Regions from separate parts of the Homo sapiens genome. Here region 2 is linked to region 1. Evidence: fine-mapped expression QTL. Tissue or cell type: whole blood. Region 1 holds a variant in brackets; the other region holds the start of a gene. Each region is shown on its reference strand, or each on the opposite one. Region 1 overlaps ZC2HC1B (zinc finger C2HC-type containing 1B). Region 2 holds the start of RGL4 (ral guanine nucleotide dissociation stimulator like 4).

Region 1 (15,223 bases):
CTTTCTTTTGTAAATTGCCCAGCCTTGGGTATGTCTTTTTCGGCAGCATGAAAACAGACGAATACAGTAAATTGGTACCAGTAGAGTGGGGCGCTGCTGAAAAGATATCTGAAAATGTGGAAGTGACTTTGGAACAGGGTAACAGGCAGAGGTTGGAACAGTTTGGAGGCCTCAGAAAAAGGCAGGAAAATGTGAGAAAGTTTGGAACTTCCTAGAGACTTGTTGAATGGCTTTGACCAAAATGTTGATAGTGATACGGACAATGAAATCCAGGCTGAAGTGGTCTCAGATGGAGATGAGGAACTTGTTGGGAACTGGATCAAAGGTTCCTCTTGTTATGTTTTAGCAAAGAGACTGGTGGCATTTTGCCCCTGCCATAGAGATGTGTGGAACTTTGGACTTCAGGGAGATGACTTAGGGTATCTGGCAGAATAAATTTCTAAGCAGCAAAGCATTCAATATGTGACTTGGGTGCTGTTAAAGGCATTCAGTTTTAAAAGGGAAACTGAGCATAAAAGTTTGGAAAAGTTGCAGCCTGACAATGCAATAGAAAAGAAAATCCCATTTTCTGGGGAGAAATTCAAACTGGCTGCAGAAATTTGTATAGGTAATGAGGAGCTGAATGTTAGTCCCCAAGACAATGAGGAAAATGTCTCCACAGCATGTCAGAGCCCTTTGTGGCAGCACCTCCCATCATAGGCCCGAGGTTTAAGGGGAAAAAATGGTTTTGTGGGCCAAGCCCAGCATCCATCTGATGTGTGCAGTCTAGGGACTTGGTGCCCTGTGTCCCAGCTGCTCCAGCCCTGACTAAAAGGGGCCAAGGTACAGCTCAGGCTGTTGCTTCAGAGGGTGGAAGCCCCAAGCCTTGGCAGCTTCCACGTGGTGTTGAGCCTGTGGGTGCACAGAAGTCAAGAACTGAGGTTTGGGAACCTCTGTCTAGATTTCAGAAGATGTATGGAAACACCTGGATGCCCAAGCTAAAGTTTGCTGCAGGGGTGGGGCCCTCATGGAGAACCTCTGCTAGGGCAGTGTGGAAGGGAAATGTGGGGTCAGAGCCCCCACACAGAGTCCCTACTGGGGCACCGTCTAGTGGAGCTGTGAGAAGAGGGCTGGCTGCCGTCCTCCAGACCCCACAATGGTAGATCCACTGACAGTGTGCACTGTGCACCTGGAAAAGCCGCAGACACTCAACACCAGCCCACGAAAGCAGCCAGGAGGGGCTGTATCCTACAAAGCCCCAGGGGTGGAGCTACCCAAGGCTGTGGGAGTACACCTCTTGCATCAGAGTGACCTGGATGTGAGATATGGAGTCAAAGGAGATTATTTTGGAGCTTCAAGATTTGACTGCCCCACTGGGTTTCAGATTTGTGTGGGGCCTATAGCCCCTTTGTTTGGCCAATGTCTCCCATTTGGAATGGCTGTATTTACCCAGCACCTGTACCCCCATTGTATCTAGGAAGTAACTAATTTGCTTTTGATTTACAGGCTCATAGGTGGAAGGGTCTTGCCTTGTCTCAGATGAGACTTTGGATTGTGGACTTTTGCGTTAATGCTGAAATGAGTTAAGACTTTGGGGGACTGTTGGGAAGGCATGATTGGTTTTGAAATGTGAAGACATGAGATTTGGGAGGGGCCAGGGACAAAATGATATAGTTTGGCTCTGTCCCTACCCAAATATCATCTTGAATTCCCATGTGTTTTTGGAGGGACCCAGTGGGAGGTAACTGAATCATGGGGGCAAGTCTTTCCTGTGCTATTCTCGTGATAGTGAGTAAGTCTCATGAGATCTGACGACTTTAAAAAGAGGAGCTCCCCTGCACAAGCTCTCTGTTCTCTTGTCTGCTGCCATGTGAGACGTGCCTTTCACCTTCCACTGTGATTGTTAGGCCTTCCCAGCCACATGGAACTGTAAGTCCAATAAACCTCTTTCTTTTGTAAATTGCCCAGTCTTGGATATGTCTTTATCAGCAGCATGAAAACAGACTAATACTACCGTCTTCTTTTGTTTTTAGTTGATTTTTGAAGCAAAACATTTATATTCCTTCCTCATTTCCTTTTGTATGTATAACTATTTTCTTAGTAGTTACCATGGGGACTACATTTAACTTCCTAATGTTATCACATTCTCATTTGAATTTATTCCAGCTTATCTTCATAACATACAATAACTGCTCCTTCAGCAATGTCTTTTCCACCCATTTTGTTATTGATGTCACAAAATTACATCTTTATACAGGTTGAATGCTCCTAATCTAAAAATCTGAAATCTAAAATGCTCCAACATCTGAAACTTTTTGAGCACTGACATGACATGCAATTGATTTTTGGATTAGTGATGTTCAACCAGTAAGTATAATGCAAATATTCCAAAATTTAAAAAAAAATCTGCAACACTTTGGTCCCAAGCATTTCAGATAAGGGATCCTTAATTTGTGCTTTGTATAGTAAACTAATAATTCCTACATTTGGTCTCTTAAATTATGTATAAAACAAAACGTGGAGTTACAAACCAGTTACAGTACTAGTTTTTAGACTAATAATTGTTTTTTAAAATGTGTTAGTCTCTTCGATCATGTAGAAAACAAAAAAGTGGAGTTGCAAACCATTATTACAATAGTACTAGCTTTTATAATTGTCCATGCATTTACCTTTATTGAGATTTTGATTTCTTCATACAGCTTCAAGTTTCTGTCTAGGATCCTCCCACTTCACCTTGCAGGACTCCCTTGAGTATTTCTTGCAGGGCAGGTCTCATGATAATGAACTTCCTCAGCTTTTGTTTATCTGGGAATGTCTTAATTTCTTCTTCGCCTTTTTTTGGTAAGAGACAGGATCTTACTTGTTGCCCAGGCTGAACTCAAGCTCCTGGGCTCAAGCAATCCTCCTACCCCAGCCTCCTGAGTAGCTGAGACTAGAGGCATGCACCTCTGTACCCATCTCTTCCCTTACTTTTTGAAGGACAGTTTTTCTGTATATGAGATTTTTGGTTGACAGTTTTTTTCTTTTACCACTTTGAATATGTTGGCCCACTGTGTTTCATCCTCCATGGTTTCTGATGAGAAGTCTGCTGATCTTATTGAACATTCCTGGTTTGTGACAGGTCATTTTTTTTCTTGCTACTCTGATTATTTTTTGTCTTTTTCTTTTGAAAGTTTGATTATAATGTGTCTCAGTGTTGGTCTCTTTGAGTTTGTCTTACTTTTAGTTTTTGAATGATTCTTAAATGTTTATAGTCATGTCTTTTGTTAAATCTGGCAAGTTTTCAGCCATTATTTCTCTCTGCTCTTTTCTCTCTCTGCTCCTTCAGGTATTCCCACAATGCATATGTTGGTCAGTTTGACAGTGTCCCACAGGTCCCTAAGGCTCTGTTCACCTTTCCTTAAGTTTTTCTCTTTCTGTTCCTCAGACTTGATAATTTCCATTGTCCTGTCTTTAAGTTTGCTGAGTCTTTCCTCTGTTTGTTCAAATGTATTCTTGAATCCTACTAGTAAAGTTTTCATTTCATTTATTCTATTTTTCAGTTCTAGAATTTTATTTGGTTTCTTTTCAGGATTTATCTTCGTGGATATTTCCATTTTGTTCATAGATCTTTTTCTTGAGTCTCTTCACATCTTTTTTTAGTTCCCTGAGCATCTTCAGTTGTTTAAAAGTATTTGTCTAATAGATCTGTTTAGCAGATCTGTCATCAGGTCTTTTTTTGGGAACAGTTGTGTTGATTTTTTTTCTTTGAAGGTGCTATACTTTTCTTTTTCTTTGTCTGGCTTGTCATTTTCTTTGTTGTAAATTGGACATTTGGACCTAATAATATGTAACTGTGGAAATTAGATATTCTCCCTTCTGCAGGGTTTGCTATTCTCTGTGTGTGTGTGTGTGTGTGTGTGTGTGTGTGTGTGTGTGTGTGTGTGTATGTGACTGTCTCTGTGCCAAGGATCAGTCTTAGGTGTCAACTTAAGGTCTTCTCAGTATTTTTGAGCTTGTGCCTTTCTCTGGGTGTGTCATGTTCACCTTCTAATTTCCTCATATATGTAGTTTTTTAAAAAAACATTGTAGTTTTTAATGTCTAGTTTCCAAAAGGGAGAAAAGACAAAAATAAAAGGAGAGAAGGGCACTGTCCCTTTAAATCCCCTGGAAGTTACTTCAGCCAGAGCAGAAGGGGCTTACAACAATGATGGGAGGTACAACAACAATGGCCACCTGCCTCTTTGTACCTCTTTGATCAGAAACAACAATCAGTGATCAGAGCATAAATCTCTGATAGTTAGAGATTCTTATTTGGGTTCTTATTTGCCTACCATGGCTCCCACAGGCCATGTCCAGATTGATCCAGGAATATGTGCAGAGCTCTGCCACACAGCACAGCTGAGGGGTGGAGGATGTGTAGCTGTGCTAAGATCTGAAATTGGTGAAATTAACTGTATCTTACTGTTCAAGCCTTCCCCTGGAAGTTGCAAGTCTTCAATAGACTCCAGAGTCCAAAATAGTTATATGGGACACATTGTGCCAGCGCAATTGTTATCTAGGAGGGGAGACAAATTCCTGGTGCTTCCTACTCTTCTATCTTTCCAGAATTCTGACAAGTAATTAGTTTTTTCCTCATTTGGGAAAAACTTAACAGTGAGGTAGATACTAGTTTTCAGTAAGAAAAAAAAATTTAAATTGTATGTGTATTCATTTGGTAAAACTTTTACCAATAAGCTTTTTTCTAAAGTACAATGCTTAGTGTCCTTCAGAAAAATAAAAAAACAATTTCTTTATATTATGGTTTCTTTTTTTTATTTTCCAGAGATAATACATATGAGAATGCTTAAAGGAGAAAAAAACACTCCTTTAAGTTTGAGGTCAAATTTTATTTCTCAAGAAGGAATATTTCTTAAGTTATAAGGATTAGATAACAAATCAACACGAGGGTCTAGAACCATTGAGCTCTTGTTTAGTAAACTTGGAAAGAGATCGTGAATGGGAAAAGACAGCATGTCAGTTACGGTGTTGAAAATCAGAAAAGAATTTCCTTCCTTGAACTGATTTATTTAAAGTAGCAACAAGACATAAGAGAAAAGGTCCCAAATTAGGAATCAAAAGTCCTGTGTCCTAGTATGTGATGTTAAGCAGAACATTATAAAGATACCATTCTAACACATAAGAAAATAGACTAGTAGATCAGTAAATATAAGCAAAATGGTATTATGTTTGCTCTTGACTAGTTAGTGAGGATTTATAAGTACTGTGATGTCACTAAGTAAAAGGCAAAGTTCTTAAAATGGTTGACACGGCTGGGCGTGGTGGCTCACACCTGTAATCCCAGTACTTTGGGAGGCCTAGGCAGGCAGATCACAAGTCAGGAGATCGAGACCATCCTGGCCAACATGGTGAAACCCCGTCTCTACTAAAAATACAAAAATTAGCCAGGTGTGGTGGGACGTGCCTGTAATCCCAGCTACTCGGGAGGCTGAGGCAGGAGAATCGCTTGAACCCAGGAGTCGGAGGTTACAGTGAGCCAAGATCGCCACTGCACTCCAGCCTGACAACACAGCGAGAGACTCCGTCTCAAAAAAAAAAAAAAAAAAGGTTGACACTAGTTTCCATAATACCATCTGAGCTCACCTTCTCCTATTTCTCCTTTTTTGAAAAAAACCGAATCCCAAATGTAATACAATGCTGTTTCTTCTTAATCCTGCTCCAGCTACAAGTGGCCCCAGGTTGTTCCTTGACCATAGCAGCCATACACACTCCTGTCTCATGACCTTTGTACTGGCTGCCCCCTCTGCTGAAAACAAAAACACTCTCCCAGTAATCTGCACTGCTCACTCATTCACTTCCTTCAGTTCTTTGCTAAAGTGTCGCCTCAGTGAGACTTCTCCAACCTCTGTATTTAAAACTAACCAAGCCTTCCCTAATTCCTTTGTAATTATTTCCACATAGCATTTATCACCATCTAATATTCAATATATATTTAACTCATTCGTCTCTCATGTACCAAAAAGAAATGGAATATAAGTTTCAAGAAAGGGGAATTCTCTACTGTATCTTTCTCTATTGTACTGGAATATCCCTACTTTTTAGAGTTGTTTGTGGCACACAAGAGGGACTCAGTAAATACTTGTTGAATGAAATGTATGAGGAGAAGTGGAAATCTTGATTCTATCATTTCACACTCAAATTATTATCATAGAATAGAATTATCATGTTAATTAGCTTTAAGAGATAGCTTTGTTTTATTTCAAGCTCAAGATGCTTTTTAAATTTAATTTCTTACTCTCTACTTGCTTAAGTAAAAAAATATAATTGCTGGCTGGGTGTGGTGGCTCACATTTATAATCCCGGTGCTTTGGGAGGCCAAAGTCAGAGGATCACTGGATGCCAGAAGTTCAAGACCAGCCTGGGCAACATAGCAAGACCCTGTCTCTACAAGAAAAATTTAAAAATTTGCTACATGTGGTGGCACCCACTTGTAGCTCTTGCTACCCAGGAGACTGAGGTGGGAGGATTGCTTGAGTCCAGTACAAGTGTTCAAGGCTGCAATGAGCTATGATCGTGCCACTGCACACCAGTCTGGGTGACAAAGTAAGTCCTTTTCTCTTAAAAAAAATAAAAATAAAGTTGCTAGGGTTAATGTGTCTTTAAATTAGTCACATATAATTTGGAGCCATTCTGGGGAGGAATTAGAAGCATACTGGGTGAAGGTGAATCTCTAAAGTGTTTAAGGACTTGGAGAAAAGTACCAAATGCCTTTCGTTGATACAAACAAGCCCATGCATTAGTTAGAATCTCACTTAGTGAGATTTCCTTC[G/A]TTCTGTTCTGATACTAGTCTACTTGTAATATGTGGTCTTTTTGTTGATATATAATATTTGTACATGTTTATGGAATACATGTGGTATTTTGATACATGAATAAAATGTGTAATGATCAAATCAGGGTATTTAAGATATCTATGACCTCAAACATTTATTATTTATTTGACTTGGGAACATTTCAAATCTTCTTTTCCAGTTATTCTGAAATATGGAATATATTGTTGTTAACTGCAGTCACCCTACTGTGCTATCAAACACTAGAACTTATTCTTTCTATCTAACTGTATTTCGTACCTACTAACCAACCTCTCCACCAGCACCCTGCCACACACATACCCTTCCCGTCCTCTAGTAACTATCATTCTATTCCCTACATCACTGAAATCAACTTTTTTAGCTCCCACATATGAATGAGAACATGTGATATTTGTCTTTCTGTGTCTGGCTTAATTCATTTAACAATAATGACCTCTAGTTCCATACACATTGCTGCAAATGACAGGATATCATTCTTTTTTTGTGGCTGAATAGTATTCCACTGAGTATATATACCACATTTTCTTTTTTTCAAATTTTATTCACATGTTTTATTCATTCATCCATTAATGAACATTTAGATTGATTTCATATGTTGCTATTGTGAATAGTCCTGCCATAAACAAGAGGATATGGGTATCCCTTTGATATACTGATTTCCTTTCCTTTGAATAAATACCCAAGAGTGAGATTACTAGATTTTGTGTTAGTTGTATTGTTAGTTTGTTGAGGAAACTTCATTCTGTCTTCTGCAAGGGCTGTACTAATTTACTTTCCAACCAACAGTGTATAATATAGAGTTCCCTTTTCTCCGCATCCTCACAAGCATCTGTTATTTCTTGCCTTTTTGATAAGAGCCATTCTAACAAGGGTAAGATTTTGTCTCATTGCGTCTTGGATTGGCATTTCCCTGATAATTAATTATGTTGAACATTTTTTCCATATACCTGTTGTCCATTTTTAAGTCCTTTTTTTTTTCCCTGTAACCAGGGGTGAGAGAGGTATGTCTTCTTTTGAGAAATGCCTACTCAGATCCTTTGCCCACTTTTTCATGGGATTATTAGTTTTTTTGCTGTTAAGTTGTTTGAATTCCTCAGGTATATGTGTTGTGTTAGATAAAAAACACAAAAAGTTGTTTGAGTTCCTTGCTTATTCTGAATATTAGTTCCTTGGGAGATGAATGGTTTGCAAATATTTTCTCCTATTTAGCATGTTGTCCTTCTCACTCTGTTGATTGCTTCCTTTGCTGCATAGAAGCTTTTTAGTTTATATAGTCCCATTTGTTTATTTTATTTTTGTTGCCTGTGCTTTTGAAGTCATGGCCACAAATTTTTTGCCTAGACCAATGTCTGAGAGCATTTTCCCTATTTTCTTCTAGTAGTTTCATAGTTTTGGGTCTTATGTTTAAGTCTTTCATCAATTTTGGGTTGATTTTTGTATATTGTGAGACATAGGGATCTAGTTTCATTTTTCTGTACTTGGATATCCAGTTTTCCCTGTACCATTATTGAAGAGGATGCCTTTCCCCAATTTATATTCTTAATGGCTTTGTTGAAAATCAGTTAGCTGTAAATACATGCATGTATTCCTGGAGTGTCTATTCTGTTTCATTGGTTTATGTGTCTGTTTTTATACCAATATCTTGCTGTTTTAGTTACTACAGCTTTTTAATATATTTTGAAATCAGGTATGTGATGCCTCCAGCTTTGTTTTTTTTTACTCAGGAACACTATGGCTATTTGAGCTCTTTAATGGTTCTATACAAATTTTAGGATTTTTTTGTATTTATATAAAGAATGTCATTGGTGTTTTGATAGGGATTACATTGAATCTGTAGATTGCTTTGGGTAGTATGGTCATTTTAACAATAGTAATTCTTCTGAGTCATGAGCATGGGATATCTTTCCATTTGTTTGTGTCCTCTTAACATTCTTTCATCAGTGTTTTGAAGTTTTCCTCGTAAGCGTCTTTCACTTTCTTGGTTTAATTTATTCCTAAGTATTTTATTTTTTGTAGCTATTGTAAATGAGATTGTTTTCTTTTTTAGCCAGTTTATTATTGGCACATAGAAATGCTGCTGATTTTTATATGTTGATTTTGTATCCTGCAATTTTACTAAATTCATTTATTCTAGGAGTGTTTTTGGTGGAGTCTTTAGGTTTTATATATATATATATGTATTACATATATATATCCATGTATATATAATACACACACACACATATATCCATGTTATCTACAAAGAGGGACAGTTTGACTTCCTCTATTCCAATTTAGATGACATTTATTTATTTCTCTTGCCTGATTGCTCTGGCAAGGACTTCCAGTACTATGTTGAATAAAAGTGATGACCCTATCTCTAAATAAATAATAAAAATGAAGTGGTGGAACTGGGTATCCAATGTCTTGTTACAGGTCTTTCAGCTTCTCCCCACTCAGTATTATGTTAGCTATGCATTTGTCAGATATGACCTTTACTATGCTGAGGCATGTTTCTTCTATGCCTAATTTGTTAAGAGTTTTAATCATGAAAAGAAGTTGAATTTTATAAAATTCCTTTTCTCTGTCTCTTGAAATGATCATATTGTTTTTGTCTTTCATTCTGTTGTTGTGAGGTATCACATTTATTGACTTGCATGGGTGGAACCATCCTTTCATCTGATGTATTATCCTTTTATGGTGCTGTTGGATTCACTTTGCTAGTATTTTGTTGAAGCTTTTTTGTGTCTGTGTTCATCAGGGGTATTGGCCTGTAGTTTTCTATTTCCATTATGTCCTTGTCTGGTTTTGGTATCAGGGTAATACTGGCCTCACAGAATGAGTAAGGAAGAATTTCCTCCTTTGAATTTTCTGAAATAGTTTGAGAAGAATATGTGTTAGTTTTTCTTTACAAGTTTGATAGCATTTGGAAGTAAAGACATCCGGTGCTGAGCTTTTCTTTGTTGGGAGACTTTTTATTACTGATTCAATCTCATTCCTTTTTTTTTTTTTTTTTTTTTTTTTTTTGAGACAGAGTCTCACTCTGTCGCCCAGGCTGGAGTGCAGTGGTGCGATCTCCCCTCACTGCAAGCTCCGCCTCCCGGGTTCACGCCATTCTCCTGCGTCAGCCTCCCGAGCAGCTGGGAGTATAGGCACCCGCCACCATGCCTGGCTAATTTTTTGTATTTTTAGTAGAGACGGGGTTTCACTTTGTTAGCCAGGATGGTCTCGATCTCCTGACTTCGTGATCCGCCTGCCTACGGCCTCCCAAAGTGCTGAGATTACAGGTGTGAGCCACTGCTCCCAGCCCATTACTTGTTATTGGTCTATTCAGGTTTTCTCTTTCTTCCTTATTCATTCTTTTCTTTTCTTTTTTTTTTTTTTTTTGAGACGGAGTTTCGCTCTTGTTGCCCAGGCTGAAGTGTAGTGGCGCGATCTCGTCTCGCCGCAACCTCCGCCTCCCGTGCTCAAGCAATTCTCCTGCCTCAGTCTCCCGAGTAGCTGGGATTATAGGCATGCGCCATCACACCAGGCTAATTTTTTTGTATTTTTAGTAGAGATGGGGTTTCTCCATGTTGGTCAGGCTGGTCTCGAACTCCTGACCTCAGGAAGCCCACCTTGGCCTCCCAAAGTGCTGGGATTACAGGCATGAGCCACGGTGCCCAGCCCTGATTTATTCTTAGTAGATTGTATGTGTCCAGGAATTTATCCATTTCCTCTAGCTTTTCTAATTTGTTAGCATATAGTTCTTTATAAGTCTCTGATGATTTCTTGTATTTCTGTGGTATCAGTTGTAATGTCTCCCTTTTTGTTTGTGATTTTGCTAATTCACATCCTCTCTCTTATTTTCTTGGTTAGTCTAGCTAGTGATTTATCAATTTTGTTTATCTTTTCAAAAAACTAACTTTTCATTCCATTGACCTTTGTATTTTTTTTTAAAGTCTCTATTACATTTAGTTCTGCTCTGATCTTTATTGTTTCTTTCCTTCCGCTAATTTTGGATTTGGTCTGCTCTTGCTTTTCTAGTTATTGAGGGGGCATCCTTAGCTTGATTATTTGAAATGTTTCTACTTCTTGATATACGCATTTATTGCTATGAAATTCCCTCTTAGCACTTCTTTTGCTACATCCCATGGGTTTTGATATGTTGTGTTTCCATTCTCATTTGTCTCAAGACGTTTATTTCCTTCTGTCTTCTTCATTGACCCAATGGCTGTTAAGCATGTTATTTAATTTCCATGTATTTGTATAGTTTCCAAAGTTCCTGTTGTTATTGATTTCTAGTTTTATCCTATTGTGATCTGAAAGGTATTTGATATGATTTTGATTTTTTTTTTAAATTTAGACTTGCTTCGTGGCCTAGCATATGGTCTATACTAGAGAATGTTCCATGTGTTGATGAGAAGAATGTATATTCTGTTGCTATTGGATAAAATATTCCATGCATGTCTTTTAGGTACGTTGATCTGAAGTGCAATTTAAATCTAATGTTCCTTTGATGATTTTCTGTCTTGACGATCTGTCTAATATAGAGAGTAGGGTGTTGAAGTCTTCAACTATTATTGTATTGGAGTCTATCTCTCCCTTCAGATCTAATAATATTTGCTATATATAACTGGATGTTCTGGTGTTAAGTTCATATATATTTAGAATTGTATCTTCTTTTTTTTTTTTTTTTTTTTTTTTTTGAGACGGAGTCTCGCTCTGTCGCCCAGGCCGCTGCAAGCTCCGCTTCCCGGGTTCACGCCATTCTCCTGCCTCAGCCTCCCGAGTAGCTGGGACTACAGGCGCCCGGCTAATTTTTTGTATTTTTAGTAGAGACGGGGTTTCACCTTGTTAGCCAGGATGGTCTCGATCTCCTGACCTCATGATCCACCCGCCTCGGCCTCCCAAAGTGCTGGGATTACAGGCGTGAGCCACCGCGCCCGGCCCGAATTGTATCTTCTTACCGAACGAATCCCTTTATCATTATATGGTGACCTTGTTTATTTATTTATAATAGATTTAGGGGGTACAAATACAGCTTTGTTACATGGGTATATTGCGTAGTGTTGAGGTCTGGGCTTTTAGTGTAACCATCACCTGAATAGTGTTTATTGTACCCATTAGGTAATTTTTCATCCCTTACCCGCCTCCCACCTTCCCACCTTTCCAAGTCTCTAATACCTGTTATTCCAATCTGTATGTCCATGTGTGCATACTATTTATCTTTCATTTAGAAGTGAGAACATGCAGTATTTTGCTTTCTGTTTTTGTTATTTTACTTGAGATAATGGCCTCCAAATCCATACATGTAGCTGCAAAAGACATTATATTATTTTTTTCATGGATACATAGTATTCCATATATATATTTACCACATTTTCTTTATCCAATCATCCATTGATGGTTATTTAGGTTGATTCGGTATCTGTCATGACTAGTGCTGTGATAAACATGAGTGCATGTATCTTTTTGATAAAATGATTCTTTTCCTTTGAGTATATGCCCAGTAGTTGGATTGCTGGATCAAAGGGTAGTTCTATTTTTAATTCTTTGAGAAATCTCTATACTGTTTTCCATAGAAGTTGTCTAATTTACATTTCTACCAACATTTATAAGTGTTCCCTTTTCTCTGCATCTTTGCCAACATCTGTTATTTTTTGACTTTTTAACAGTAGCCATTCTGACTGGTATAAGATGGCACCTCATGGTTTAAATTTGCATTTCTCTGATGATTAGTGATGTTGAATATTTTTTCATATGCTTTTTGGGCATTTTTATGTTTACTTTTGAAAAATGTCTATGTTCTTTGCTCACTTCCTAATGCTTTTTGTTGTTGTTGACTTGTTTGAATTCCTTGTAGATTCCAGATATTAGTCCCTTGTCAGATGCACAGTTTGCAAATATTTTCTCCCATTCTGCAGGTTGTCTGTTCTTGTCTGTCTATTTCTTTTACTCTACAGAAGCATTTGTTTAATTAAGTCCCATTTGTCTATATTTGTAATTGGTGCATTAGCTTTGAAATCTTAGTCTTGAATTCTTTGTGTAGGCCAATGTCCAGAAGAGTTGTTCCTAGGTTTTCTTGTAGAATTTTTAGTTTTCGCATCATACATTTCAGTCTTTAACTCATCTTAATTTTTGTATATGATGACAGATAAATCCAGTTCATTCTTTTGCATGTGGCTATACAATTTTCCCAGCACCGTTTATTGAGTAGGGTGTCCTTTCTCTGATGTATGTTTTTGTCAACTTTGTCGAATATCAGTTGGCTATAGGTATGTGGCTTTATTTCTGGGTCTTCTATTCTGTTCTGTTGATCTATATGTCTATGTTTATACCAGTACCATGCTGTTTGATTACTATAGACTTATAGTATAATGTGGAGTTAGGTAATGTGATGCCTGCTTTTGCTATTTGGGTTCTTTTCAGTTCCATATGAATTTTAGGATTTTTTTTTTCTAATTCTGTGAAAAATGTCATTGCTATTTTGATAGGAATTCTGTTAAGTCTGTAGATTGCTTTGGGCAATGTGGTCATTTTAACAACATTGATTCTTCTAATCTGTGAGAATGGAATGTTTTCCCATTTATTTGTGTCCTCTTAACTCTCTTTCATCAGTATTTTGTAGTTTTCCTTGTAGACATCTATCACTCCTTGTTTAAATGTATTCCTAGGGTTTTTTTTTTTGTTCTTTTTTTTTTAACTATTGGAAATGGGATTGACTTTTGATTTGGTTCTTAGCATGATTATTATTGCTGTATAGAAATGCTACTGATTTTTGTCGATTTTGTATCCTGGAACTTTACTGAATTCATTTATCAAATCTAGCAGTCTTTTGGAGAGGAGTCTTTAGGGTTTTCTAGATATAAGATCATTTCATCAGCAAACAAAGATAATCTGACTTCCTCTTTTCCCATTTTGATGGCTTTTATTTTTTTCTCTTGCCTGATTGCTCTGGCTAGGACCTCCTGTACTGTGCTGAATAGCAGTGGTGAACATGGACATACTTGTCTTGTTCTAGTTCTTAAGGGAAATTCTTTCAACTTTTTCCCAGTGTGTTATTGGCTGTGGGTTTGTTATACATGGCTTTTATTGTTTTGAGGTATGTTCCTTCTATGCCTTGTTTGTTGAGGGCATCATGATAGGATGGTCAATTTTATCAAATGCTTTTTCTAATCTATTGAGATGATAATATGGTTTTTGTTTTTCATTCACTTGATGTGATGAATCACATTTATTGATATGCATATGTTGTACCAACCTTGCATCCCTTGCAAAACCCACTTGATCATATTGTATTATCTTTTTGATGTGCTGTATGATTTTGTTTGCTTGTATTTTGTTAAGGAATTTTGCACCTATGTTCATGAAAGGTATTAGTCTGTAATTTTCTTTTTTTGTTGTGTTCTCTACTGATGTTGGTAGCAAAGTGATACTTTGTAGAATTAGGGAAGAGTCCCTCCTCTTCAGTGTTTTGGGACAGTTTCAGTTGGATTGGTAGCACTTCTTTTATGTCTGATAAAATTTGGCTGTGAATCTGTCTGCTCCTGGGCTCTTTTGTTGTTGTTGTTGTTGTTATTTGGGGGAGATATTTTTAAATTACTAATCATATCTCACTACTTATTATTGTTCTGCTCAGGATTTCTATTTCTTCCTGGTTCAATCTTGGGAGGTTGTATAGATTCCACAAATTTATCCCCTTCCTCTAAATTTTCCAGTTTGTGAGCATATAAATAGTCATAGTAGTCTCTGATGATCTTTTGCATTTCTGTAGTATCAGTTGTAATGTCTCCTTTTTCTTTTCTGATTGTGCTTATTTGAATCTTCTTTCTTCCTTCCTAGGTTAGTTGACCTAGTGGTCTACCAATCTTGTTTATTTCTTCAAATGAACAACTTTTTGTTTTGTTGATCTTTTGTATTGTGTTTTTGGTCTCAAGTTCATTTAGTTCTGCTCTGAGCTTTGTCATTTCTTTTCTTCTGCTAGCTTTGGGTTTGGTTTGTTTCTTTTGTTTCTTGATGTGTAACATTATGATGTTAATTCAGGATCTTTCTTTTTTTAATGTAGGTGTTTAATGCTAATACTGCTTTTGCTGTTTGTCAAAGGTTTTGATATGTTGTGTCTCTGTTTCCTTTTGTTTCAAAAATGTAAATTTTTGTCTTTTGTCATTGACCCAAAAATCATTCAGGAGCAGGTTGTTTAACTTTCATGTATTTGTATAGTTTTGAGAGTTTCTTTTTTTTTTTTTTTTTTTTCCTGAGACGGAGTCTTGCTCTGTCGCCCAGGCTGGAGTGCATTGGTGCGATCTCAGCTCACTGCAAGCTCCGCCTCCTGGGTTCATGCCATTCTCCTGCCTCAGCCTCTCCGAGTAGCTGGGACTACAGGCGCCCGCCACCACGCCCGGCTAATTTTTTTTATATTTTTAGTAGAGACGGGA
Region 2 (15,223 bases), not on the chromosome of region 1:
ACGAGGGAACCAAATACCAAACCCAAATTCATATATGATGGACACATTTTTAACAAATATACCCAGGGGATGGGAGACCCCGGGCTGCCTTCGGTTGGGGCTGCAGAAGTGTCCTGGGGGGACCTGCAGCCACCTCTCACCTGGGCTCTGGATGGTTTCTACTCCATGAGGATTTCCAGAGTTTCCCCTCAGCCACCCTCAGAGTCAGGGGGGCTTCCATGGGGCTGCAACCATCTGTCCCAGTCTTTCCTGTCTCTATGACACACCGTGTGACCTGTGTACACTGCGAGATGTAGGTGCGTGCATTGAAACCGTACAGTTAAGATGACCTACAACTGATGCTACTCTAAGTCTTCCAGAGATTTTTCAGATATCCCCAGAGTAAACCAAACTAGTGATATCCCATGGTTTTGCAAACCAGAACCAACAACTGCACAGAAACAGCTCCTTATGCGCCATCAGACACTCTCCAGACCTGCCCCTCACTCACAAATGTAACAAAGCAGCATGAACCCAGGCAGTCTTCACTCCTCAGGGCCACATAACAACCTCTATCGGTCAGGAAGCCTTTGATCTGGGCCAGGCTGCCGACCCACAGGGGTTAATTGTGCCTCTCATGCTGAGTGTTGTTTCTCCTCACTGGACTAACCCCCACCCTTCCACCAAGAAGGGCCCCCAGGGAAACTGCTGTTTGACATCCAGGAGCCCATGTGGAATGTTCCAGCAACCTGGATGGCCTTGGCCACCTCTAATACCAGCCTTTCCCTCTGTGGGGCTCCCTTCCTGGCTCTTGCTCATGCAAGTCAATCTAAAGTGGCTGAGATGTCCTGCTCCCTCACCCTCCTGGGTCACCCTGATGGCATAGGCAGGTGTCTGCATTCAAGAACGAGTTACCCACAGGCCAACTTCCCTGGTGTGGGGGACAATGCCTGGGGCCTCCAAACAGCCAGCCCCAGGTAAACAATCCAGCTCTGACACAGCTCAAAGACTGTGTGGCGTACCTGGAGAGACTCTCTGGTCCTGTGCCCTCTTCTGGCTCACTGGATTCTTAGGATTATTGAGAGACTGGGCTTAAAGCTCTCAGCCTAGGGCCCACAATGCCACAGGGAATCAAATCAGCATGACCAGGGATCGAAGACCTCTCCTTGGCTGGGAATGGGGAATCAGGGTTGCAGAGACAAGGGGCACAGAGAGATGCCTGTGCCATCAGAGAAGGGACTGGGGATCTGGTCCACTCTGGGCTCCTCAACCTGAGCGTGAGGCCTTGCTGTGCCATGAGCTCACCTGCCCCTTGGGAGTCCACTGTGACTGCAGTCCAGTGGGGTCAATGTCCACACTGATGCCGGAAAGAAGTCCTGGGAGATGCGGAGGGCATCCTGTAGCGGCAGGCAGTCTGGGTGGTCCACGGGTGTGAGCTTCAGCAGGTCCTGGGAAGGGATGAGGTGGTGAATTGGGGGCCGTGTTTTTGGGGTTCGATGAGAAGCTCCTGGGGGAATGCTCAGTCCTCACCAAAAGAATTCAAAGGGCAGGTACTCAGGGACCCACACTCGTGCCTGCAAAATCTGAACTGAAAATTAGAATCGGAGCAGCAGGGTTGATTCTAAAAGGGGCTGGGCTCGCTTTTCTCCCTGCTGCAGTCATTACTCGTTTCCCCTGGCAGAGGCAGCCGGGTGGAGGCTCATCTCTTCAAGCAGCTGGGAGAGACACCCCACTACCCACCCTGCAGCTGCTCCAAGGATACTGGAGACAAAAAGACAGGGGCTGGGGAAGCAAGATGTTCCTGCCTCGACCAAGACAGCAATTGGCCAAATGCCCTGACCCTGCTGGCATGGTTACCGCAGGCCAGGCAGGCATATTCAGGGCTCAGGATCCCTCTGCCTGACTTTTCAAATGGGCTGTTCTCAGTGACTCTGGCCCCCTCCCACCCTGGGCTCACTCTTGAGAAACTCCTAAGCCTTCTCTGGCCCTTCAGGGGCCTTAACGCTTATGTGTAGGACCAGGATGCTCTGAGTGACCTACTTGGTCAATGGGCTGCTACAGCAGAGCTGTTGGGGAAGGCAGAGAGAAAAAGGACAATGACAGACAAAGAACCACTCAACACCTCAGAGACCAGCTTTGTCCCCCACCCAACCGCCTTGCTCCCCACATGAACACCTGCTTGCAGGAAGCCAAAGTGGGTCCACAGCAGCCCACCTCTGTTCTCACTCCCAGGGCAGACAAAGCAGCAAGAACAGGTGACACACAGCCCCGGTGACCCTGTCCCCTCCCTACCCGTGCCTACTCTCCCATCAAACCTGGCTTCGAGGGCTGCCCGCCAGTCCTGTCCAGGCCTTATCTGGCTCAGAGCAGATGATCCCCTGCACCTCCCACCCTGAATCACACAGCTACACCCAGCACATGCTACAGAGGCCCAGCACACTCTGGATCACATCCAGAAACTCCACAATAGGGGAGGAGACATGCTGTTTCCCAGGAAGGGCAGCTCCCCAGACTTGGTCATTCTCAGACTCCTCCAGTCAAAGGCCGGGCACAGCCAGCTGGGATCGCCATGCTTCACTCTGACCCACACGACTGGCCTTGCCTCCTCTATGGGAAGAGACCCCTCAGCACAACCTCAAACCGAGACATAACAGGACAGGACAGGCTGGATGCTAGAGAGGCCAGCCAGATCTCCACACAAAGGCTCTGCTCTTAAGCAGGAGGTAGCCTGAGGGTCAAAGGTTTCCTGAAGCAACTCAGGTGAGACCTCACATACAAGAGCCCCAAAGAGGCTGCAAAAGCACCAGCTCAGCCAGCCAAGAACCCAGGTGTCACACCCTTCTCAGACCACTGAGGATCGCTGGGATTCAGCAGGAAAAGGTGGACATGACAGCTGATGGACCAATACTTCCCAACACCCTTCCAGCAAGCAGCTGTGCCCCGCCCCTCCCCACATGAGTCACTCAACTTCAGTCCTGCACATGGATGCCTTTGACCATGGGGTCATGGCTTTGGTCTCCTGCCATAGGGGCAGTGAGAGGAACAATGGTGGTCTGGGAAGGAGGATCCTAGACTGGGTGTCCCACAAGACCAGGCTGTGACAGATCCCAGAGCCAATACTCATGCGCCAGCCAGTCCCCAAACCCAACAGCTACCCAAAGCCCAGGATATAAATAGCCTGTGCACTGCTAAGCAGATACTTCAGGGAATGATCTGCTGGCTGTGAAGAAGATGCGGCCTCAGTAGGGTTCCACGAGCCTTCTGCCAGCAAAATCTTCTTTGCTTGGATGCCCATTAGAAACACTAAGGGAGCTCTTCAAAGGAACAGGCCAGACATGGTGGCTCACATCTGTCAACTCAGCATTGTGGGAGGCTGAGGCAGGAGGACAGCTTGAGGCTAGGACTTTTAAGACCAGCCTGGGTGGAACAGTGAGACCCCACCTCTACAAAAAACACAAAAATTAGCATGGCATGGTGGTGCATGCCCATAGTCCCAGCTACTTGAGAGGCAGAGAAGGGAGGATTCCTTGAGCCTGGGAGATCAAGGGTGCAGTGCCCATGATCATGCCACTGCACTATGGCCTGGGCAACACTGCAAAGTCCCGCTTTCAAAAAAGAAACAAACAAAACAAAACAAAACCAAAGATGCCTGTCTCCTGCCCCATCAAATAAATCCAAATCTCTGCAGGGTGACACAGGGTATTAACATTCTTAAATTTTGCCTTTGCTGAAGTAAACATATAGTAATGGCTGAAAACCACTGCGTTATGTAAATACACTTCCTATGACTTATTTGTAGTCCTTTTGTATCTAGCAATTTCTACAGACCCTCTCTGTGGGCTTCGGAAGCCAGAATGGGCAGGGCCAGGTGTGAGGTGTCCTAGGACACTGAGGGTAGAGCACAGCTCCCAGCTCAGGGGGACCCATTTCTGAGGCTAAGGCACCCACCTGGGGCTCAGCCTATCTTCAGAGGGAAAATCACACCTCAGAACACCAGACACCCAAAAGAAAGCTCCAGTTCGGCAGATACCTGCCAATAGACCCTGGAGTGGCTGCCCCAGGGAAAACTGCCATTGCACTGTCAGCTCCCTCCAGCCCTCTCTCAGGTCCCAGCAGGAGCAGATTTCTGACTAAGCTCAGAGGTCTCAACAAATGGCAGGTTGAACATCAGAGGAGTTATTAATAGGCCTATAGTTACCTCAAGACTCCACCTTACCAGGGCCAAAAATGAGTCCTGGGAGGGCAGCCAGAAAGAAAGTAGGGCAGAGAGGAAACACAGGGAGAGGGGCCCTGGGACCACGTCAGATATGGAGGGAACCAGGGGAACGAGAGCAGCCCTGATGATTGTACTCCCCACAGCCCCTGCATGCCTGTGAACCCTGAGAATTCAGGGTGAGGAGCTCACTCTTGCCTTTCACCTGTTCCTGGGCTCTGGCAGGCTGGCCTGCTTCCTGCCCCAGCCTCACCCACTCTCCGCACTCCTCGCCACTGATGTGGGCAGCTGATCTCTCCGGTTTGCTGGGCTCTCACCCTCTGCCCAATGGCACCAAGTTAACTTCTTCGCATGCTTTATTTTCTGTGATTAAAAAGGGAAACAATTCTCACTAACGCCATTTCTCAGAGGAGAAAACAGGCACAGGGATGTTCTATGACTTCCTCACGATCACCAAGCTACAAGGGGGAGCTGGGCTTTGAATGGAGGTCTACCCATGCTCCTAAAGTTGAGGCGTCCTCCAAGGAAAGGACAGCACCTATAAAAGCTCAATGAATGGGGCGGCAGTGTCACCACTAAGCCCGACCACGCTGCTACTCTGATATCCAACTTCCAGCCTCCAGAACAGGGAGAAATACAGTTCTGTTTTTGATGAGCTCCCCAGGCCGTTACAGCTCTTTCTTTGCTGTAACAGCCTGAACTAGCCCAGAAGTGCTATTCCATCATCTGTGTCATATTCCATCATTCAGAAGGGAGTCACTAACCCCTCAGTGCTGTCTCTGTGGACGCTGCCCACCCTAGGCTGAGATGAGGCACAGGGTCTGGGTCTAAATAAAATGGGAAGGCACTGGAAGGTGCAATGTCATAGGAGGAGGATGTCTGAATTTCATTTAATCTCAACCTCTACTGGTGCAGCATGAAAGATGAGGCCCAGAGCAAAAGTGTCTTTTCCCGAGATCACACTGTGGACCCCAGGCCCACTGGAGTTGCATTAGACGTTACCTCTCACCCCTTCTTGTATTTGTTCCATTTCTAAGTGTGTGCAATATCCACAGGGAACACCACACCATGAGTTTTTAAATATTTATCTCAAACATAACCTCATGAGTTCCCTAGGAAAGAGATGCTAGCATAACCCCCATTGTGCATGCTGGGGAGACCCCAAAACACCAAAGGAGTTCTCTAGGGTCTCACAACTGCTAAAATAAAGGCTGTTTGACCCAGCACTGTCTCCTCAAACCTGGGACCCTGGTTATATCCAGGTCTTCCCAAGGTGCTGAAGGGGCACACTTTTTCATAATGGTGACTACGTAAGGAGTTGACGGGGGAGGGTGAGCGGTCAGAAGCCCAGAGGGGCCTTTGAGTAGGACTTATGGAAAGGAGGAGCTTACAGGATGGAACCTACAAGATGTGACCTCACTTCCTTGCCGACAGACCCCCAACAGAACTTACAATTCTGGTAACTAGGCACCCACATTCTAGAGACAGCCCCATTTCCAGCTCACTTCGTAGGCGATGCTCGAGAGAACAACATGTTCTCCTGCTGTATCCCGACATGCTGCCGACCTCCTCGTCGCACAAGAGGCCAAAATGAGAGTCTTTCCCGAGAATATAGACATTGGTTCAACCCTCACCCTCGACGCCTCTGGCCCTTTGCCAGAAGGCACCCACAGGTAACACAGGGCCCAGGGCAGGCCCATCCAGGCTAGGCCTCAGCTGTGCCCATCAGGGCAGCCTCAGGCCCCTCCCCACTTGTTTGGGGGAAACAGGAGATGAGGGGCCCTCCCTGGATAGGAGCAGGTAGGTTGTCAGGTGTTTGGAGCCTGGTAGGTATGTCAGGTTCACAGCCCAGGCAGTGCCTGGCAGGATGGGAAGGTGAGTGTCAAGGACACAGTTTGTCTGCTCAGATCTGAATCCCAAGTCCTCAAGCTGTCATCTGCCGGAGACCTCAGGCTTCTCTGGCTGGAGGTCTATGCAGATGCTCCTATGTGCCAAATCCTGTTGGGGAAGGGGGTGCCAGGGATGAGTTCTAATGGGGGTGTCCCACTGTGGGGTCAGCCAGACAGGCCACTGACACCTCTTGGCCCGGCTCTCGGGCACTCTCTTTGCAGAGCTCCACACAACAGACCAAACAAGAGCTGTTGGATGGATTCAATTTCTCCATATTCTTCAAAGGGCACGTGCACCACACCACCAACCACGTCCAGTGCCGGTCTGCGGTGAGATTGGGCACAGAAGGGTCTCCACAGACAGGACTTGTGAAAACCAAGGTGGGCCCAGGACTCAGACACGAATATGGGGACTCCCTAAGCTCCATCCTAGGGCGTTCCCACTTGAGTGACCCACTGTCCTCTCCCAAAGGAATCTGGCTGCCATTAGTCCCCAGTGGCAACTTGGTTACAGGCAAAGTCCCTTTCACCTATCAGAGGAAGACCAGAGAAAATCCTTCTGTTTTCACTTTAGGCTATGCCAGGAGTATCTCGGCATGTTGCTTTAAGAATTGAGTACAATGGTAACATTGCAGCAAAATACTCACACTGTTATCATTTTAACTCCCCACCCTAAGTGGATCTCCGGCAACAGGCAGGCAGCTCCGCTGCCCTGCCAGACCTCCTCCAGGACTTAAAATCCAACACTTTTGCACAAACAAGGGGTGGGGGTGGGGGGGGTGCATTGATTACAACAAAAGAAGGTGAAGCGACTCTATGCATTAGTCTTTAAAGTGTCATCTCACAGAACTCATCCCTGCAGCCCCATCAGGCAGGAGTTGTACCCTCGCATGTCATTGTAACATTCCTTAAGGGAGGCCATTTTCCACAGCGGGTCAGCCTCTCAGTGCTGGTGGAGCCTGTCATGATAAAATTCCCTTTCGAGGCAGCCTTTCTACAAGGAGCATAATCCTATGCGTGTCCTAATAGGCTGGAGCAGTTTGCCAGGGCTGCCATAACACGGCACCCTGACTGAAGGGCTTAACCACAGAAATCTGGTTCCTCACAATTCTGGAGACTGGAAGTCCAACGTCAAACTGTCAGCCTGGGGTGGTTTCTCTGGGCCTCTCTCCTTGCCTTGGAGATGGCGGACTTCTATCTCAGTCAGCACAGGGTCTTCTCTTGAACTTCTCTGTGCGCTGACCCCCTCTCCTTGTAAGAACCCCAGGCATGTTAAATTAGGGGCCACCCTAATGAACTCACTTCACCTGAATTACCTCTTGGAGTACTCTGTGTCCAGACACAGTCACATTCTGAGTCTCTGGGGTTGAGAATAGAAACAGTTACATTTGGGGAAGGGGACACAATTCAACCCATAAAATAAACAAATCCCCTGCAGCAGACAGACACCCAGGAAAGGGATATCTGGGTGAAAGGATATGCAGATATCAACTTTCAACAGCTCTAGCTAGTTGACTTTCCAAAAGGGCTCCAGCTGGTCACACGGTCACCAGCAGCCTCTGAAGGTAGCTGCTTCTCTGAACGCAGCCTCCCCTGAATACTAACACGCTTTTAACTTTTCGCCAACCTGCTGTCTGTGTGGCAGAGAAAATCCTTGTTTCATTTCCACTTTCAAACATACATTTGCGTAACCTTTCACGGGTTCAATACCTGCCTGCGTTTTCCCCAAGTCGCCTCGCAGATCCTGGGCCTTGGGACGCGCTTCCTCCCACCCTGGAGTCTTCCGGCATTTTCCCCTTGGCCAGGGCTGGGATGGCCGTAGCTGTTTCTCCAGACTCACGTTCATGTTAAAGGAACAAAAACAATCATATACCTTTAAGTCAAAGAGTTCTTCTAGAGCGTATTGTCCTGTGTGCTGTTGCTGAAATGAGGAGGGGATGAGGCCTCCCCAGGCCTTGAGGACTTGCAGGGATGATGCTCTTCATGCAGGTTGCTGACACAGAGGGTGCTGTTGCCCCACAGCTGACAAACACCGGGACGATGCCTTGAAGGCAGGAATCGTTTTATCATTCTCCATCCTCACATGCAATGTTACTTTGAAAGCCTAGAACGCTTTTCACCATGGGCACCCAGGTTCTCCATATGCACAAGTCCCTGAAGGGTTGGTGCTTCTTGGTGTGAGTTCCAGATCCCGATCCTCTGGTGGTCCATGGTGTTACCACTGACTCCCATGTCCCTCCTTGTCCCCCTAGTATGAAAATGAGATCTGCAGGATGCTAACTTTCCAGCCCGGCACTGGGGAGAAGCTGTTGGGAGTCCCTGGTTCCAGCCTTTCTAACTAAACCCATCTCCTCCTATGCCACCTGCCTGGGCCCCTCCTGGGACTTTATCACTGTGCCACACTTTTTGGAACTACTGGTTAGAAGGTGAGTGTCCATCCCCCTCCAAGACACAGAGGTGCCTCTGTCCCCTACTGGCTCTGTCTTGAAGATGCACCTCTCGGAGCCTCGGTTGGCTCCTCTGGAACAGGGAGTAGTGAGAAGACGAACCTCACAGGGTTCTTGTAGGGACTCAATGATCTAAGACACAGCAAACAAAGGGGTCCCTAGAGCCTAAAACTCTGGAAAATCTGCTGGGGGTGCTGTGATTCATGTTTGTTACTTTTCTCTTCCCCCTCACTTGAAGCAGCTCTCAGCATTCTGCCTCAATGGCCTGTATCACTCACTGTTTGGAAAAACACATAGAAACCAAGTCTGCGATGGCACTGGTAAAGGATGTCTGAGATTCCTTCTGGCTGGTCTTTCTCCTTGACACAGACAGAAGAGGGGTCCCTTGGTGCTGAAAAAGGAGCCACAGGCCCACTCAGACATCTGGAGAGGCTCACTGGGGTTCTCCAAAGGTTGGGGTTCACTCATTCAACACATACATTCAAAACACCTCATTTGTGCATCGCTCTTCTTGGGGCTTGGCATAATTTCATAAACAAAGCAGATGACAATCCCCCGGCCTTGATTCTACTCAGAGTCAGGCACTCACAGTAGACAGAATAAACAAGTCATATCTACAGAATGTTACAGGTGAGACCCTCATGGCCTCCTCTACGTATGGTGGCATCCTCCCAGATTCTGACTAGAATGACGCAGCCCAGCAACAAATATAAACTGGGTGGATTTAGGGTTCTGAAGGGCCTTTTCACCCACAAAACATGGGGGAAAATATGTGGACTCTGGCTGGGGAGAGACTAAAGGAGCTCTGGGGCTCATACTTCTTATAATTCCCACGAGAAGGCTGACATCTGGGGACTTCCCCCACAAGAGGCAAATAGTGAGTTCTGTAAATGGAGACTTAGGTCCCCTGCAAAGCAGAGGGGAGGCTGGGGTCACAGCTGGCCACTGAGAGACCCATCCCCCTCAGCACCGTGGCTTCCCAGCTCTCCCTGTCCTCCTCCCCCCGACATCTGCCCCTTCCCTCCTAACCCCAGGACCAGGGGACCCAGATCTGGAGCTTTGATGAGGAAGCTGCTCACAAATCTGCCTGCAGCTGCAGTCTTGAGTGCCCAGGTGTACAGTGCTGTGCTCCAGGGCCTTTGGGAAGAGAATGTCTGTGGGACGCCAGGGCGCACGAGGGTCTGTACAGCCCTGCTGTATGGCCAGGTCTGCCCCTTCCAGGACAGCACTGATGGCTTACGGTAGGGTGGGGCTGTCCTCCACACTGGCAGCAACAGGCCAGGGACCCAGAACCACGCAGGGGTGCCCTGGAGGGTTGTGTGGGAGAAGGCCAGGCCTCTGACTCAGCTGTCTACTCCATCACCAGCACCATCACCTCCATTTTGTTCAACTGGCCCCCCGAAAACACTTCAGTTTACTATCAGCCCCCGCAACGGTCATCTTTCCGGATAAAGCTGGCCTTCAGGAACCTCTCCTGGCCTGGACTGGGCTTGGAGGACCATCAGGAAATTGTCCTAGGCCAGTTGGTGCTTCCGGAGCCCAACGAGGCCAAGCCAGATGGTGAGGGGGCTTGCAGTCTGCAAGACTTTCCGGGGGTGGTGTTTTGGGGCTACAATTCCCTTAAATTCCACCCGGTCATTTCTGTGCTTGGAAAACCCAGTGAAAAATGACTGGTGTGGTGACCTTTTCTCCTTTTCCAGATCCTGCTCCACGTCCTGGGCAACACGCATTAACAATGCCGGCCCTGGAGCCAGCACCACCACTGCTGGCGGACCTGGGGCCTGCTCTGGAGCCAGAGTCACCTGCAGCCCTGGGTCCACCAGGATATCTACATTCAGCACCAGGGCCAGCACCAGCACCAGGGGAAGGGCCCCCTCCAGGGACAGTGCTGGAGCCACAGTCAGCCCCAGAGTCCTCCTGTCCCTGTCGTGGGTCTGTAAAGAACCAACCCAGTGAGGAGCTGCCTGACATGACGACCTTCCCTCCCAGGCTGCTGGCAGAGCAGCTGACCCTCATGGATGCGGTGAGCAGCTGAGCTTTGCAGGCTGTGTCTCTGGCACCAGCTGTCTCAGACCAGCCTCTCCCTGAGGAGCAGCCAATGCCCTCGGTCCAATTTCAGCCCCACTTCTTACCAACCGTGGGATCTGGATGAGTTTCCTCACCCACAAGCCTTCCCTGTCTGCATGTGGACGGCAGAGATGGGACATCACCAGCGCCAGCTGCACAGAGTGACTGTGCAGACTGAGTGACAGGAGATGGACAGAAAGCAGGGCAGGGCAGGTGCTCACTGTGGGGCAGGCAGGGCCATGGGTCACTCACCCAGCTGCTCAGGAGCCTCACTACCCTCAGCACTTATTAGGTACCTGATGCATACTGGATTCTATGGTAGACACCCAAACAGAGCCCATAGTTGCAGCTGCCACAAGGAAAGTGCACCGGTACGGAGAGGAGTAGTAGAGGGCTGATTGGGATGGGAGGAAGACGAGGCCTCAGGATGGGCAGGCCTGAGCCACCTTCTAGTTCTTAGAGTGTGGATGGCCTGGGAGAAAATGTCACTCTCTCTTCCCACCCTTGTTGGGTTCTAGGCCATGATGCATTCAGGTCCCTCGGGGGCAGAAAACCAAACCCAGGGACTCCCACAAGTCTGGAGCCCATTTTAAAGCTTTCTGAGCTCCAGCTTGGTTCCTGCCAGAGACCGTGGATGACTGTGAGCTCAGTCCCTGCCTGGGACTGTGGGTGACTCTGAGCTGCAGTGTGCTGTGTCCGTGACACTCTCCTCCTCCCCCAAAGGAGCTGTTCAAGAAGGTGGTGCTCCACGAATGCTTGGGCTGCATCTGGGGCCAAGGACATCTGAAGGGGAATGAGCACATGGCACCCACAGTTCGTGCCACCATCGCACACTTCAACAGGCTCACCAACTGCATCACCACCTCCTGCCTCGGGGACCACAGCATGAGGGCCCGGGACAGGGCCAGGGTGGTGGAGCACTGGATCAAGGTGGCCAGGGTAAGCTATGGTTGGGCCTGGGGATTCCCTCTTTAAAAATGGGGAACTTCCTCTTCTCCTCCATCGGCTTTCAGGATCGGCATCTGTATCTCTGGCCTGGACCCTGCACATCCCCTAGGCTCTTCTTGCCAGAGCTTCACTCACCTTGACTCCCACGGCCCAGTGGTGGCTGCTCACTTCCGACCTGGGGTCTTCCTTGGGTTGAACTAAAATCCTCCTAGATGAGTGACATCCACTCGGCCCCAGGTCTGCCCTCCTGAGGCTCCCCAGGCCTCTGCTTCATCCAGGAGGGGAGATCTCAGCAGAGGGGGCTGAGGCTGTAGTGGGCCAAGCTCCAACTCTGAACCGCACAGCTCATTCTTCCCTCTCCAGGAGTGCCTAAGCCTCAACAACTTCTCCTCGGTGCACGTCATCGTCTCTGCTCTGTGCAGCAACCCAATAGGTCAGCTACACAAGACGTGGGCAGGAGTGTCCAGGTGAGGAGGGCTCTCTCCATGGCAGCATCAGGGTTGACCTAGGGACTCACAGGTCTCCCCCCATGTGCCCTCAATGACTCTGAAAGGTTCTTGGAGTCCAGGGACACTGGAGGCAGGGATGGGCCGGTGGCTGTGGTCACTAAGCTGCCCTGGACTCCTAGGCAAGGATTTCCAACTCAGGACTAAGGTTTTTTAACCATCAGGAACAGACTGGAGCCAACTGGAGGCTTTCAGGTGTTTGTACCCAGCAGTGGAACTCTGTGTCCAGCTGAAAGCTAACTGTAAACACGCAGTGGCTCATGTGAAGTGGAGATGGGGCCCAGGGGAGGAGCATGAGAGGTCCCACCCTGGTCCTCTGGAGCCCCTGTGATCAGAGGACTCCACTGAAAACTCTCACCCAGTAAGCTGGGATTCACTGGGTTTTCAAACAAAAGGGACTGGAACTCACAAATCTCCCCTGATTCCCAAATTTACCCTTCTTTCTTTCCTCTGCCCATAGCAAAAGCATGAAAGAGCTAAAAGAACTCTGCAAAAAAGACACTGCAGTGAAGAGGGACCTACTGATCAAGGTACAGTGGAGTCTGGGAGATGCAGGACAAGTGTTTAAGGGTCAGAGAAAAGAGTGAGTTTGGAAGGGCATTGGACCAGGTGTCGAGTGGTTATTTTGTTTGGTTTTGACTTACCTACTAAAAGTGGACTTGAAAAATTCCCTCCATGCCTACCTTGGGCCAACAGGAAGAGTGGTGTGTCGGTCCATGGGCACGTGGGGGCATGGGGGCAGGAGGCCCTGGAAATGGGATGTGGCAATGGCTGCTGGGCTGCTGGGCTGCTGAGCAGGGGTGATGAGCTGCAGCATTAGCAGGGCTCTGGCTCCCATGCTGGTCCATGCTGCTGGCATGGAGCTTCCTCCAGGCTGGAGGGTGATCATGGTAGGTGGGACTTCCTTCCTTCCTCAAACCGGCCAGCAATTCCTCAGGAAGCCAGGCCTCTGCTGCTGCTGCTGCTGCTGCTGCTGCTGCTGCTGCTGTCTGCAGCACACCTCCATGGGCAGGGGGCCTTGGCCTGCACTGGGGGAGAGGGGGAACAACAACAGAGGAAGCTCATGTGGCAGGGAGTCCAGTAACTGCCCAGCTTTGGGTACCAATGGGCATACTGGGGACAGACGTAGCTGTTTGCTGGGACTCCCCACTCTGCCCTTTGCAGACACCCAAAAACGGTCATGTCAGAGGATTCTCACCGGTTAGCAGCGACGCATGCTCATGACAAGTATCTGGGGGATTCATACATTGCTAGGGGATCCTCCCTGACCAGATCTCAGAATCGTCCATGCAAATGAGAAGGCAACATGTCACCCCACCCAGGACTCTGGAAAACCCTGCCATTGCAGTCAGAGATGGCGCATCAGGAGGCTACTTCCTCAGTGGAGAAAGAGAGAGTTCCGTGCACGGAACTCCCCTGGGGGATCATTGGCGAGGCGAAGCCTTTGGCATGGCTCAAACCCAGTTTGCGTGGCAGAGATTCCAGTGGGGCTGGGATAGGCAGGTGCCACTTAACCAGGTCTCCTAAAATGCCCTGTCCCTTTCCCATCACGACTGTATGTGGCTGGAGACCTAGACACTCAAAGACTCCAGAGAACACGACCCTGATGGGTGGTGGTGCTGGGATGTGAGCTGAAGGCAGCCGAGACGGAGCCTCCAGGAGCAGAAGGAGGCGTCCTCTCTTTGGGGGCCCTGGGGAGCCACTGCCCGCTCTGGGCCTCTGTTTCCTCATCTGGAAAATGAAGGGATGCTGAGCCTGTAGTGCAGGCCTCACAGGGTAGAAATGAAGTTCAAGAAAAGAAAGCAATTTGAGGGTGCTCGTGCCTGGTTCTTCCTCAGAGGGATGACGGTGAGAACAACGGCAACAGCTACAGGAAACTGAGCCCTCAGAGGCCCTGTGAGGTAGCTGTGGTTTGCATCACTCTTTACAGAAGAGGAAACAGTCTCAGGGAGGCCCGGCTGCAAGACTGGGTGACACACACAGGGAGTGTGGATCTGGGCCAGTGGTATGAGCACGGTGCCAGGTGGCTCCCGCCACTCCCTGGGGATCCAAGTGCGGGGTGGCTGGGGTGTAACTGGGGGAGAGGAGGAGAGCCTCACTGTCCCTGTCGCTGACACCTGGCAGGCGGGGAGCTTTAAGGTGGCCACCCAGGAGAGGAACCCCCAGAGAGTCCAGATGAGGCTGCGGAGGCAGAAGAAGGTGAGTGAGCCTGTGGCATGGACGGGCCGCAGGGGATCAGAGGACAGGGCTCCCTTCCCCGCCAGCTGGAGGCCTCCATATCAAGACAGCGGGGGCTTCCTCCCCAGCCCTGTCCTCCTGTGGCCACTGGGCCTGGAAAACCTTCATTTGAGAGACCAGAGGAAGGGTCTGGGAAAGCTGGACTCAGACTAGATGTGGGGAAGGGTAAAGCTGGGACCACAGGCCTTTGTGACTTGTTAAAATCCCACCATAGAGGTTAACAAGGAGTGCTTGCTAGACTTGGAGGTCAGCTGGGATACAGGAGGCAGAGAATTGGGAAAGGCAGCTGAGGGTCTTTGGCTGCTCCAACCGGGAGACCTGAGGAGGGGGCTCTGGGAGACAGGGGCTGATGGGATTTCATGGGACAGGACCTTGGGCAGGCACCTGAGGGCCAATACTCATCACCACTACCCCTCCCACCTCCCCACCCCTCCTTGGCACAGGGTGTGGTCCCCTTCCTGGGGGATTTTCTGACTGAGTTACAGAGGCTGGATTCGGCCATCCCGGACGACCTGGATGTGAGTGAGCCTGGGGCAGGGTGCTTGGGAACCAAGATCCTGAAGCTTGGGAGGAGAGGGTCCTGGACCGAGCCTTTAGATCTCAGCCCTTGGCAAACCTCCTCTCCTAAGAGCCTCACAGCTGCTCCTGTGGGTGGGGGTGTCAGGCCCATCTCATCACCTCTGAGTGATGGAGGCTCCATGGCAGCCACCAGGCCCTATTCCTGAGTGGTGAAGCTGCAGAGCTGCCTGACTGCAAAGCTGCTGAGGTGTGGGCTGAACTGGGCTCAGCTTCTCCCTAGGGTAGTCCCGTAATAGGAGGGTGAAATTGAGCCTCTCCAAGGGCAGGCAGTTCCAAGGTCACTGAGCGCTTTCTTTCTATGAGAGACCTCAGTTTCCCTGTCTGTCATCACAGAGGGTTGGGGCAGAAGGTCCCTGG

The links. PIP is the estimated chance that this variant, and not a neighbour inherited with it, causes the effect.
Region 2: RGL4 starts here. The variant in region 1 is fine-mapped to the expression of RGL4 in whole blood (TOPMed, PIP 0.99).

What each region holds. Positions count from the first base shown.
Region 1 is chr6:143,915,361-143,930,583 of GRCh38, forward strand. All of the region lies in intron 6 of ZC2HC1B (zinc finger C2HC-type containing 1B), which reads left to right. Among named protein-coding and RNA genes, the nearest start is that of ZC2HC1B, 58 kb to the left of the region's middle. The variant G/A (reference allele first, on the strand shown) is at 6,788.
Region 2 is chr22:23,682,441-23,697,663 of GRCh38, forward strand. It overlaps RGL4 (ral guanine nucleotide dissociation stimulator like 4), which reads left to right and starts at 8,573. Exons shown (of 11, transcript NM_153615.2): 1 at 8,573-9,769; 2 at 9,895-10,088; 3 at 10,229-10,551; 4 at 11,319-11,534; 5 at 11,907-12,010; 6 at 12,510-12,579; 7 at 14,174-14,248; 8 at 14,731-14,805. The coding sequence starts at 9,591. It also overlaps the pseudogene GUSBP11. RefSeq lists a silencer at 2,722-3,016 and enhancers at 12,980-13,480, 14,215-14,294.